Linked DNA regions of Homo sapiens: regions 2 and 3 are each linked to region 1. Evidence: fine-mapped expression QTL. A gene starts in region 1. Each other region holds a variant in brackets. All regions are shown on one strand. Distances are between the middles of the regions.

What was found. PIP is the estimated chance that this variant, and not a neighbour inherited with it, causes the effect. A credible set is the group of variants that fine-mapping cannot tell apart.
Region 2: its variant is the best candidate, but not a certain one, in a credible set for the expression of ANKRD16 in whole blood (TOPMed, PIP 0.67).
Region 3: its variant is the best candidate, but not a certain one, in a credible set for the expression of ANKRD16 in whole blood (INTERVAL, PIP 0.85).

What each region holds. Positions count from the first base shown.
Region 1 is chr10:5,887,559-5,891,722 of GRCh38, reverse strand. ANKRD16 (ankyrin repeat domain 16) reads left to right here and starts at 1,830. Exons shown (of 8, transcript NM_019046.3): 1 at 1,830-2,682; 2 at 3,656-3,876. The coding sequence starts at 2,369. It overlaps FBH1 (F-box DNA helicase 1), which reads right to left and starts at 1,480. Exons shown (of 21, transcript NM_178150.3): 1 at 1,377-1,480. The coding sequence starts at 1,377. RefSeq lists silencers at 1,048-1,097, 1,288-2,007, 2,148-2,257, 2,268-2,547.
Region 2 is chr10:5,853,653-5,857,816 of GRCh38, reverse strand. TRV-TAC3-1 (tRNA-Val (anticodon TAC) 3-1) reads left to right here and starts at 4,034; the gene lies at 4,034-4,106. RefSeq lists a silencer at 3,985-4,164. The variant G/C (reference allele first, on the strand shown) is at 1,787.
Region 3 is chr10:5,867,440-5,871,603 of GRCh38, reverse strand. All of the region lies in intron 7 of ANKRD16 (ankyrin repeat domain 16), which reads left to right. Among named protein-coding and RNA genes, the nearest start is that of TRV-TAC3-1, 16 kb to the right of the region's middle. The variant T/G (reference allele first, on the strand shown) is at 2,267.

The DNA of each region.
Region 1 (4,164 bases):
CAGGAGAATTGCTTGAACCCGGGAGGGGGAGGTTGCAGTGAGCCGAGATCGTGCCACTGCACTCCACCCGGAGCAACAGAGCGAGACTCTGTCTCAAAATATATATATATATTCCAACCTACTGTGAACCCGTGTGTCCCAATTATGTTTAAAAAACAGGGAAACTAGAGACATAATGCAAGAGAAGATAGTCATCTGAAACTGGGAGAGGGGCAGGGGTAAAAGCAAAAAGCATGAAGCTACCAGATGCCTCAACTTCCAATTTGCACTAACTTCAACGGCAGCAGAACACTGCTTGGCACGCCCTACACTTTTGTGCATTTCAAACAACTTTTATGCCTTCCTTTTTTTCTTTTGCTGGAGTGACAAGGCACGACAGAACAATAACCTGAGCAAAGCTGGTACTTGGACTAGTTCTGTCTCCAGAGGCTATCCACATCACTGTTACCTTAACCAAACTCAATCTGCTCATGAGTAAAACGGACTTATCTTCATGGGCCCATTCCAGAAGTCTTTTCATTTATCTCCGCTCATTTTACCACAGCGGCAGACGCTGGCGGACACTCAACACATGCTACCATCCTGCCTTCCAGAAGACTTTATTACCTGTAATTCTGTAAGAAAGTCACTGACTTGGTTAGGCCTCCACTTCCCCACCTGTAAAACCCTACTGATGCCTCATAGGGTTGTCTTCGGACCACAGACTGCAATAAAAAATGTAAACGGCACTCGTTTTTAGGCCTGGCAAATAGGAGCTACTCCCATTCTACTCCCTAAAGGAATCGAAAACATGGAGAGGTTAAGTGACTGGCACCTAATCAGATCGGGTAAGGAACCCAACACCTACTGATCTCTTCCATCACCCACAGCCTGCCCAGCTCTCGCCGTGCCCTCCACCAGCGCCAGGCCTCCCACATCGCCTTAGGCTTCCCATGCTCAGAGGAGGGGCAGAGAAGCTACCGATGACACAGGGGCAGAGGGCAGCGAAAAATGACTTGCCCAAGGTCAAAACGTCAGAGTAGACGGGAAAGCCTGGCCTCCTAGCAGCCGAGGCCACGTCCCCGCGCTTGCCCCTTCAGCCCCGAGGACCCACACGCTGCGCCTTCCTGGCCTCGGGGGGCAGCGCGGGGGCCGCTCCCGACCGAGTTCAGTGAGCGCCCTGGCCTCCCCCGCGCACCCCCGCCGCGCCCTCCACCTGCCCACGGCCCGGACGGCCGAGCCCCCACGCCCGCGCTTGCCCGAGCCCAGCCTCGCGCCCCCGGGGCCCCCGCTGCCCCACCCCGGGCCCGGACCCCCCGCGCAGGACCCCGGAGGTTAAGTTTTCCACACGGCGGAGCCCCTCCCACACTCCCTGCCACGTCTGCGGCCTCACGCACTGTGGCGCTCCGGACCCGGACCCCGCTGCCGCCGCCGCCGGGCCCGCGCCGCCGGCCGCTCAGCCCAGCGTCCCCCGGCAGCGAGCTCCTCCTCTGGCCGGGACCTGGAGCCCGAGACGCCCGCCGACTTCCTCCGCGAGCTCCGCCCCGCCGCAGCCCCGGGAAGCGCCCGCCGCCGGAGCCGGACTGACGGCCCCCGCGACCAATCGGGACGCGAGACCGGAGGGGGCGTGCTGACGGACGGCCACTAACGCCAATCGAAATGCGCAATCGGTGGGGGCGCGGCCACAGCTACCGGGCCACGCCCCATCCGCGCTTCCGCTCGGGCCGGGGCGGAGCGGGAAACTTTCCCAGAGTTCCTTCGAGCTCCCCGAGTCCCCGCGGAGCAGCGGCGGTCGAGGGGCGGGGACGGGGGCGGAGCCCAGGAACGCCGGCCCCCAGGGGCTGGAGGCTGGGGCGGCCCTGAGGACGCGTGCGGGGCAGGTCACGCTTGGGCCTGGCTGCCTCAGGAGCCACCCTGCACGGCGCCGGGCGAGGCTGTGCGCGCCCTCCCGGACCCTCCACTTTGGGGCTTTGCGGTGTAGCGGCGCGCCCCACTCCCTTACGTGTTCAGTCCCGAATCACGTACGGGCCGCTGCAGCTCCAGGACGGCGGACGCCAGCGCTCTCGGATCCCCAGGCCCCTCCGTGCTCATCCCGGACCGCTCCGTCCCTGAGGAAAAACCGCCCCGTGCCCGGAACCGCGGCTTCTCCCACGCGGGGCAGGCCGGGGCTGTGAGGGGGCAGCCCGCCTGCGGACTAGGCCGGGGGTTTGAGGAGGCGGCTCTGCCGGGGACAAAGCCGGGGGCGTGAGGGGCGGTTCTGCCGGGTTCGGGGCGCGCGGGGCAGGTTGCGTGAAGAGGCGGAAAGTCCCACTCGCCCTCGGCTTCTCCCTGCCCGGCCGCCGGTGTCCCGCCCGCCGCCTCCCCGCGCAGCCCGGCCCGACCCGCGGCGATGGCCCAGCCCGGGGACCCGCGGCGCCTCTGCAGGCTGGTGCAGGAGGGCCGGCTGCGCGCCCTGAAGGAGGAGCTGCAGGCGGCCGGGGGCTGCCCGGGGCCGGCCGGGGATACCCTCCTGCACTGCGCCGCGCGCCACGGGCATCGGGACGTGCTGGCCTATCTGGCCGAGGCCTGGGGCATGGACATCGAGGCCACCAACCGAGACTACAAGCGGCCTCTGCACGAGGCGGCCTCCATGGGCCACCGAGACTGCGTGCGCTACCTGCTGGGCCGGGGGGCAGCGGTCGACTGCCTGAAGAAGGCCGACTGGTAGGTGTGGAGCGGAAAGACACCCCGCCTCCCCTCTACTCGCAGAGTCGTAGCGAGTTCCCTGTGCTTCTCCGTCCCCTTGGACACCGTAGCTGTTCTCAGCTCCTAGTTCTCACCCCAGGCCTGCTCAGCGGCAGGGACCTCCTGCCCAACTTTCCCTTATAACGCAGATGACCTGCAGAGTCCCTCGTTCCTGCCCTTGTGGGTTAACTGGTCGGGGCAGTCACCTCCCTTTCTAGAGCACGGAATAGTGTAGAATATAACCAAAGAGAATGTTACCAAACAATGAAGTGTGTGCACTATACAGATAGCCTCCGGATGCGATGTTCTGGGGACATTTAGCTAAGTTACTTCTGCACCAATGCATTGTTTCAAGTGGCATTGCTCCAATCAATATCCAGAATTCCTGAGTTATACACGCGCTCGTGTGTGTAGAGCACAGTGCAGTTGTATCACATACGTGCAGCCTTGCATAACCACCACAGTCAGAGATACTCTGCTCCACCATCACACAAGCCAATTGCATTTCGTTTGTTAGATTGACACTGATTTTAGTACTCACTAGGTCAGGTTCGTTAGAGGGCGTGAACATCTTTAGGAACATAGGGAAGTACATCTTCCCCACTGGGGCAGGGGAATAGACTTCGTTATGTGTTGAGGGTTGTCTGTGGGTTTTCTTAGCTCTGCTCCAATTCACTGCTATCCTGTGAACTAGCTTATAAGCTGCTTTGTCTCCCAGGCACCCTCTCCTCTAGGTACACGTTCGTTACAATCATTTTCCCCTTATTATTTCTCCCAGGGTCCTCACAGAAGGCACAGAGGTTGCCGGTCAAAGCTGTTTTCCTGCCTGCCAGACCCCTGAATCCTCTAGGTTTTCCATCTGTGCCAAGGATGTGTGTGTTTTGAAGACCTGGCCCCTGGCTTCTAATGTCTCAGCTGCCTCCATCTGACAGCTTCTCCTGGTTGGCCTTAGGACTCCTCTGATGATGGCCTGCACAAGGAAGAACCTGGGGGTGATCCAGGAGCTGGTGGAACATGGCGCCAATCCACTCCTGAAGAACAAAGATGGCTGGAACAGTTTCCACATTGCCAGTCGAGAAGGCGACCCTCTGATCCTCCAGTACCTGCTCACTGTTTGCCCAGGTGCCTGGAAGACAGAGAGCAAAATTAGAAGGACTCCTCTGCATACTGCAGGTACAGCCTACAGCTCTGCAGGTGAGCAGTACACACATGTGGCTGCTTCACCCAGCACTGCCCAACCGCATCTTGTTCAGGTCACCTTCAGGGGAAAGGAGGATTTTGGAAAACAGAAGGCAGAGAATAAGAACATCTGGGGGGGAGGGGGTGGGGGCGGGGGCGCGGGTGCAGTGGCTCACGCCTGTAATCCCAGCACTTTGGGAGGCCGGAGGCGGGTGGATCACCTGAGGTCAGGCGTTCAAGACCAGCCTGGCCAACATGGTGAAACGCCGTCTCTACTAAAAA
Region 2 (4,164 bases), 34 kb after region 1:
GCCTCTACTAAAAATACAAAAATTAGGCTGGGCACCGTGGCTCCTGCCTGTAATCCCAGCACTCTGGGAGGGTGAGATGGGTGGATCAGCTGAGGTCGGGACTTGGAGAGCAGCCTGACCAACATGGAAAAACCCCATCTCTACTAAAAATACAAAATTAGCCGGGCATGGTGGCACATGCCTGTAGTCCCAGCTACTCGGGAGGCTGAGGCAGGAGAATCTCCTGAACCTGGGAGGCGGAGGTTGCAGTGAGCCGAGATCGTGCCATTGCACTCCAGCCTGGGCAACAAGAGCGAAACTCCATCTCAAAACAAACAAACAAAAATTAGCTGGGCATGGTGGCACACACCTGTACTCCCAGCTACTTGGGAGGTTGAGGCAGGAGAATCGCCTGAACCCGGGAGGCAGAGATTACAGTGAGCTGAGATTGCATCTCTGCACTCCAGCCTGGGAGACAGAGTGAGACCCTGTCTCGAAAAAAATAAAATAAAAAAAATATATAAAAGAAAAAAGAATGAAAGGGAGGCTATGCATGCCCCCTTTTTTTCAGAAGGCATGTAGATCATTTCTGTTCACATCCTCCTGACCATAGATCAGTCATATGACTGCTAGAAGAAAATTGAAATTTAGGGATGGTTCAGGGCTTTGCCATATGCCCTTATCAGAGGTGCCTTCATTGAGACTATTTGGGGACAATTATCTGTGCAAGTCTTTGCTGCTGTCCCCACCCTTCCCCTAACACACACACTCCTTAACCTTAGCTTTTAAAGTCTTAGAGACCAGAGAGCAAATCCACTTATTTATAGATACGCAGTTGTAAGGGACATGAGAACAATCTGTGAAGATGGCATTCGGAGCAGAGAACAAGGCCGCATAGCCGTGTAGGGTGTTAGTCCCCTACAGTGATGCTCCAAGTGACCTCATGCAGGTCACACTCCCTGCCTCTCAGTGTCCTGGTAAACGATGGGCAAAATGGCACCTCCTTCCCAGGTTTACTGTGAGGATTAACCGAGTTGGTGTGTGTCAGACCCCGGTCCAGGTCCAGCCCATGCTGAAGTCCAAGGTGAGTGGGGTGGATGAGCAGAAACGCTTTGGTGCAGGGGGCCTAGGCAGGTGAATATGGTTTTATTCAGCAGCAGTTCTCATCAATGGCTTTTTATTAGCAGCTTACTCACATTAGCTCTCTCACCCTGTCCACCTTTATCTCTGCTATTTGCTTTGGCTCTGTGGCTCCTGTGACCCCCGGCTCTCCCTTGCCTTCAGGGTCAGCAGCTTAACTCTTTCTTTCTCTGGCACAAGCAAGCAGAGCTGTGTCCTGGCTCCCTCCTGTCTGTCTACAAGATGGACAGCTTTGGCTGTCTCCCTTTCTCTGGGCGCCAGCGCACCCACCACATCAAGCCATGTCGAGCCAAGCTGAGCCTCAAAAGCACCTGTACGGCGTCAGCAGGGCAGTTATACCTTTTACAGACAATAGTGGCTCAGAGCCAAGTATGAACTTACACAAACAGGTTATGTAACAAGCGGAGGTGTGCGCCTGCGCACCAAACTCACTGAGCCGTGCAGGCCTGTATATCCGCCTCGGTCTCTACCTTGACCAAATCACATCTATATACCTTACAGCGTGCATGATGCTTGGCCCAGCACGTGCACCCAACACGTGTGAGCCATTGTGAGTAACAGTCGCACCAGGTGAGCCTCTTTGGCTTAATGGGCTGAGTCGTCAAAGGCGAATGAAAATCATCAAGTTAGCAGCACAAGACCAAGAAGAGCTCAACTGAAGAAAGCA[G/C]TGAGACAAACACCATTTTTAGCCCCTTTTCCTACTTTTTCTCTTTCTCTTTCCCTCCCTGGGGATGTATGTCCTTAGCCCTTGGACGCCTCCATTGTCTTTATCAAAAAGAAAACTAGGTTTCAGTCTTCATTCATGCTAAGGTGTTAATGAAAAAATTTCAAATTTTATCAATCCTTGAGTTGTCTGCATTTTTTTTTTTTTGAGACAGGATTTCACTGTCAGGCTGGAGTGCAGGGGTGTGATCCCGGCTTACTGCAGCCTCTGACTCCTGAGTTCAAGCGATCTTCCTACCTCAGGCTCCCAAGTAGCTGGGACCACAGGCAGGCACCACCACACCTAGCTAATTATTTTTTTGTATTTTTTTTAGTAGAGACAGGGTTTCACCATGTTGCCCAGGCTGGTCTCAAACTCCTGGGCTCAAGTGATCTGCTCACCTCAGCCTCCCAAAGATATGAGCCACCATGCCCAGCCAATTGTCTGCATTTTAACAAGGATCAAATTATTAAACCGAAAGAATGAAGCTCTCAATATGAAATGCATGCGTCATTAAAAATGTAAAGAAGTATTTTCAAAAATGTATTCTAACTGGGCCTTCCTTCATATCTTTATTTGTATTTTTTGTTTTTTGTTTTTTTTGAGACATAGTCTCCCTCTGTCACCCAGGCTGAGTAGCACCAGGTGAGCCTCTTTGGCTTAATGGGCTGAGTCGTCAAAGGCGAATGAAAATCATCAAGTTACCAGCACAAGACCAAGAAGAGCTCAACTGAAGAAAGCAGTGAGACAAGCACCATTTTTAGCCCCTTTTCCTAGTTTTCTTTTGCTCCTTCCCTCCCTGGGGATGGAAGTGCAGTGGCATGACCTCGGTTCACTGCAACCTCCGCCTCCTGGGTTCAAGCCATTCTCATGCCTCCGCCTCCTGAGAAGCTGGTACACACACACTCAGGTGTGTGCCACCACACCTGGCTAATTTTTGTATTTTTAGTAGAGACGGGGTTTCACCATGTTGGACAGGCTGGTCTCAAACTCCTGGCTTCAAGCAATCCACCCACCTCAGCTTCCAAAGTGCTGGAATTACAGGCGTAAGCCACCGTGCCTGGTTTGTATCTTTATATTTGTTTATTTATTTTTTTTTTTTTTGAGACGGAGTTTCACTCTTGTTGCCCAGGTTGGAGTGCAATGACACAATCTCGGCTCACTGCAACCTCTGCCTCCTGGGTTCAAGCAATTCTCGTGCCTCAGCCTCCTGAGTAGCTGGGATTACAGGTGCCCGCCACCACGCACAGCTGATTTTGTATTTTCAGTAGAGACGGGGTTTCACCATGTTGGTCAGGCTGATCTCAAACTCCCTACCTCAGGTGATCCGCCCGCTTCCGCCTCCCAAAGTGCATTACAGGCATGAGCCATCACGCCTGGCTGGGTCTTTATAATTTTTTTATAATTAAGACATTTTCTGTCCCTTTCATGACTACATCTTGTTAATTCAATTTCTATTCAGCATCTCAAATAGGTCCACTTTCAACAAGCCCACCGACAGCCACTAGGCAACTCCAGCCATTGTCCTCTTGTTCCAGGTACTGTGGCTGCACAGCAAATTACCCCCAAATCTAGCCGTGTAAAGCAGCCCTTTGTTATGCTCATGGATTCTATGTATAGGAATTCAGACAGGGTCCAGCAGCGATGGCTTGTCTCTGCTCCCAGGGACTGGGGATTGCAGCTGGAAGATTTGAAGGCTGAAATCACCCATGTCTGGCAGATGCTGCTGGCTGACGACCTCAGTTCCTCCTCACATGGGCCTCTCCCTCGGTCTCTCCATGTGGGCTGGTGTGAGCTGAGAGAGAGGGAGGGAGCGCCAGGCAAGGCCATATTGCCTGTCATAGCCTAACTTTATTTATGTATTTATTTATTTATTTATTTTTTTGAGACAGGGTCTCGCTCTGTTGCCCGGGCTAGAGTGCAGTGGCACGACCTCAGCTCACTGCAACCTCTGCCTCCCTGGTTCAAGCAATTCTCCTGCCTCAACCTTCCAAGTAGCTGGAACTACAGACACATGCCACCACGCTTGGCTAATTTTTTTTGTATTTTTAGTAGAGACGGAGTTTTGCCATGTTGCCCAGGCTGGTCTCGAACTCCTGACCTCAGGTGATCTACCCACCTTGGCCTCCCAAAGTGCTCGGATTACATGTGTGAGCCACTGTGCCCAGCCTCATGGCCTCATAGTCTAGCTTTGAAACTCAGCTAGCCTGTGGTTCCATAGTGTAGTGGTTATCACATCTGCTTTACACGCAGAAGGTCCTGGGTTCAAGCCCCAGTGGAACCATGGTGTGGTCTGTTGTTTTCCTGCCTGTAATCCTAGCTCCTCGGGAGGCTGAGGCAGG
Region 3 (4,164 bases), 20 kb after region 1:
AGGGCAGAGCCCACGTGGGCGCCTCATTCAATGCCAGTATCTAGGAGGGTGGGGGATTTGTGGAGCACATTTATTACGTTTCCTACAAGAATGGATAATAATGTGGACTTACATTTGGCAGTTTTTACACTTTTTTAAATTACACTCTTTCAGTTGGAAAGAGTGATGTGGTGTGATATTTATTTATTTATTTATTTATTTATTTATTTATTTATTTGAGTTGGAGTCTAGCTCTGTCGCCCAGGCTAGAGTGCAATGGCTCAATCTCGGCTCACAGCAACCTCTGCCTCCCGGGTTCAAGCGATTCTCCTGCCTCAGCCTCCTGAGTAGCTGGGATTACAGGCGTGCGCCTCCACACCTGGCTAATTTTTCTATTTTTAGTAGAGACAGGGTTTCTCCATGTTGGTCAGGCTGGTCTCGAACTCCCAACCTCAGGTGATCCGCCCACCTTGGCCTCCCAAAGTGCTGGGATTACAGGCGTGAACCACCAAGCCTGGCTGCGTGACATGATTTTTACTGAGAAGGAAACAAGATGGGAGTGAGGGCTGGCCTCTGCCAATCGTGGTGACGACAGGGACTTGATTGGCCTGTGTGATTAACCCACCCTGCAGCATTTGCAGAACCTGCCTCCTCCTACCATGCTGAAAATGTGATTGACTTGATACTGAGGACAGGCCTGGGCGCTCCTGGGAAAGCACGGGGAGTGGATGCATTTATCGGCCCATGCTCTGTGCAGCTTCTGGCCTGAGCACAGCAACAGGAGGGTTCTGCAGGCATTTCAACCAACATGACACCTCTCCTGGCTTCACCACAGGTGAACCAGGTCTCTTGTTACTCTTCCTACTCTGGAAGGCCCAAAGCATCCTGAAGGGGAGTGACACCCTGGGGGTAATTGAAACAACATTTTAAAAATAGCAATGGCCAGGCACGTGGCTCACGCCTGTAATCCCAACACTTTGGGAGGCCAAGGCGGGCAGATGGCTTGAGACCAGCCTGGACAACATGGTGAGACCCTGCCTCTACAAAAAATACAAAAAATTAGCTGGGCGTGGTGTGCCTGTAGTCCCAGCTACCAAGGAAGCTGAGGTGGGAGAATTCCTTGAGCCCAGGAGGTCAAGGCTGCAGTGAGCTATGATTGCACTTTTGTATTCCAGCCTGGGTGACAGAGCAAAACCCTGTTTCAAAAAAAAAAAAAAAAAGCAGTAGGGAGGGAATGAGGACTGGCTGGTGCCCGGGCAGAGTCGCAGGGAAGAGAGGCCAAGAGCCAACGCTGACCTCACTGTGCGGGTGCACTGGGGGCCCCTGCGAAGCTGACCTCACTGCGCAGGTGCACTGGGGGCCTCCGTGAAGGGGTCGGTGAGGAGCTGGACAAAGATCAGAGCAGGTTTGAGAGAGAATGGGAAGGCAGAACCTGGAGCTTGCAAATGAAGCAGTGGAGAGGGATGTGGATCGATGTTTTGGTTTTTTTAATGGAGCAGATTACAGTTTACAGATTGCTGAGAGAATGGTCCAACAGAAAGTGAGGAGGAGGAATGAGTCTAATGTCTGTACGAAGCAACTAGAGTCTTGTTAAAATGCAGATTCCTTCAAACCTAGGGATCCTGAAAAAAAGAAAAATGCAGATTCTCAGAGGGAGAGAGTCCAGGGGTGCGGGGGCCAGTCAAAAAAACTACCTACTGGATACCATGCTAAGTGATGCGATCCTTACTGCAGACCTCAGCATCACGCGATATACCCAGGTAACAAACCTGCACATGTACCCCCTGTATTTAAAATAAAAGTTGAAATTAGAAACTATTAAAGATGCAGATTCCCACCCACCCACCCCTCCCCCCAGCAACCCCCAGCTGCTTCCAGCTAGTTCCCAGGGGCGGCCATAGCTGCTGCATTGAGTAGCTTCTTGTGCATGAGGAGAAATACTCGCGTTCACCCTGCCGGTTCCTCCCCAGCCTCAAGAGGGAAAGCTGAGCAGAAGGGTGCTGAGCAGGAGCTGGGGCCCTTGGTGCTGGGAAACACCAAGCTGTCTTCTAGGTGCTTCGACTTCTCAGTGAAATAGGAAAGCAGGTGATCAGCTGAGAGTGAGGATGTGGTATGGGAGGTCTGACGAGTTAGGGAAGGGTGAAATAGTCCATTAGGGGAGCAAAGGCCTGGGCAGTGCTTCTCAGGCCCCCACCTTGCTGGACACAGGTGGCTGGGCAGCCCCAGAGAGCTGGGCCTGTAGGTCCAGGGTGGACTCTAGGAATTTGCATTTCCTTTGTTCTTTTCC[T/G]TTTTGTAATGGTTTTACTGAGGTATAATTGGTACACAAAGCTGCACATCCTTGATATATACAGTTTGATTAATTCAGACATATTTGTGCTCCCAGGAAACTATCACCACGGCCAAGGCAATAAACACATCCCTCGCCTCCAAAAGCAGGGTATCTAATCTTTTGTCTCCCTTGGGCCACATTGGAAGAAGAATGATTGTCTTGGGCCACACATAAACTACACTATCACTAAAGATAGCTGATGAGCTTTAAAAAAAAAAATCGCAAAACATCTCAATGTTTTAAGAAAATTTACAAATTTGTGTTGGGCCACATTCAAAGCCACCTGGGCCACAGGTTGGACAAACTTGTCCAAAAGTTTCTTCCCGCACCTTTGCTTTCTTTGTCTTTTTGTGGTATTGTGTCCAGAATTTATTCCTTCTGGTGGGTTCTTGGTCTTGCTGACTTCAAGAATGAAGCCACAGACCTTGCGGTGAGTGTTATGATCTTAAAGATGGTACATTCAGAGTTGTTTGTTCCTCCTGGTGGGTTCGTGGTCTTGCTGACTTAAGGAATGAAGCCGCAGACCCTCGCAGTGAATGTTACAGCTCTTAAGGGTGGCGTGGGCCCAAAGAGTGAGTAGCAGCAAGATTTGTTATGAAGAGCAAAAGAACAAAGCTTCCACAGCGTGGAAGGGGACCCGAGTGGGTTGCCGCTGCTGGCTGGGGGTGGCCAGCTTTTATTCCCTTACTTGTCCCCACCCACATCCTGCTGATTGGTCCATTTTACAGAGTGCTGATTGGTGTGTTTACAATCCTTTAGCTAGACACAGAGCGCTGATTGGTGCATTTTTATAGAGTGCTGATTGGTGCATTTACAGTCCTTTAGCTAGACAGAAAAGTTCTCCAAGTCCCCACTTGATCCAGGAAATCCAGCTGGCTTCACCTCTCAACCCACCCTCTAAACGGAACACCCCAACTGCTACTGGGAATTGGGTGATGACCATTCTAGCTACTTCCTGCTGGATAGGGGCAAAGAAGGGTCCCTGCAGTTGTAGTGTCCTCTAGAGGGGAACTCTTTAGGCCAGTCAAAGGGCCAGCAGTTTGGTCCAGGGGTCCTCAGTAGAAGTTAGTTGAGCTCATTTGGGGTTCCATTTGTAAGACCATCTGTAGCTTGATGGCCTCGATCCTAGAGGAAACAAATTTGACAAAGAGGTTAAAAATACAGGGCCCAAAGGTGAGTAATAGCAAGATGGATGTCACGGGACCTAGAAAGGGGAGAAGTCATGTCACCCAACTCCAGAGGTTGGTATAAGAGTTTGAAAGGCGTTGTCTGATTTCAGAAGCCTTTTCCTGTAAACGCCAGGCGGCATCTCGTACTATCCCTGCCTGGTTAGTGTAAAAGCAACACTCTTCCCCTAAGAAGGTGCAAAGTCCTCCTTTCTCAGCAGTGAGGAGGTCCAAGCCTCGGCAGTTTTGGAGAGTCGCTGCTGCCAAAGAGTCTATTTGGGATCGTAGTTACTATCCTTACTGGATAGATTTTGTTATTTCTTGCAAGCTGTCTGAGAAATCCTTTGAGAGTGTGTGGTAGTAGGATAATGAAGTAGATAAACTGGCTATTCCGGTTCCTGTAGCAGTGGCCATTCCTAACCCTATAAGTAGGGGTATTAGTGGATGGCTCTGCACTGATGGACTTGAGCTTTGAGGGGCGCTGATAGGGTCTGATTTCCATAAGATTAGAGGTTAGGATAATACATGTTACACTGTTAAATTTTAGCAAACTTTACTTTTGTTGAAAACCTTATAAGTTTGGGATTTTAATTTTTCTTTGCTATTAATAAAACCTCGTTCAGTCCATATTATCTTAGAAATGGTATAGATGGCTTCTTCCTGATTCTGTAAGTACTTTAAAGTTTGGCT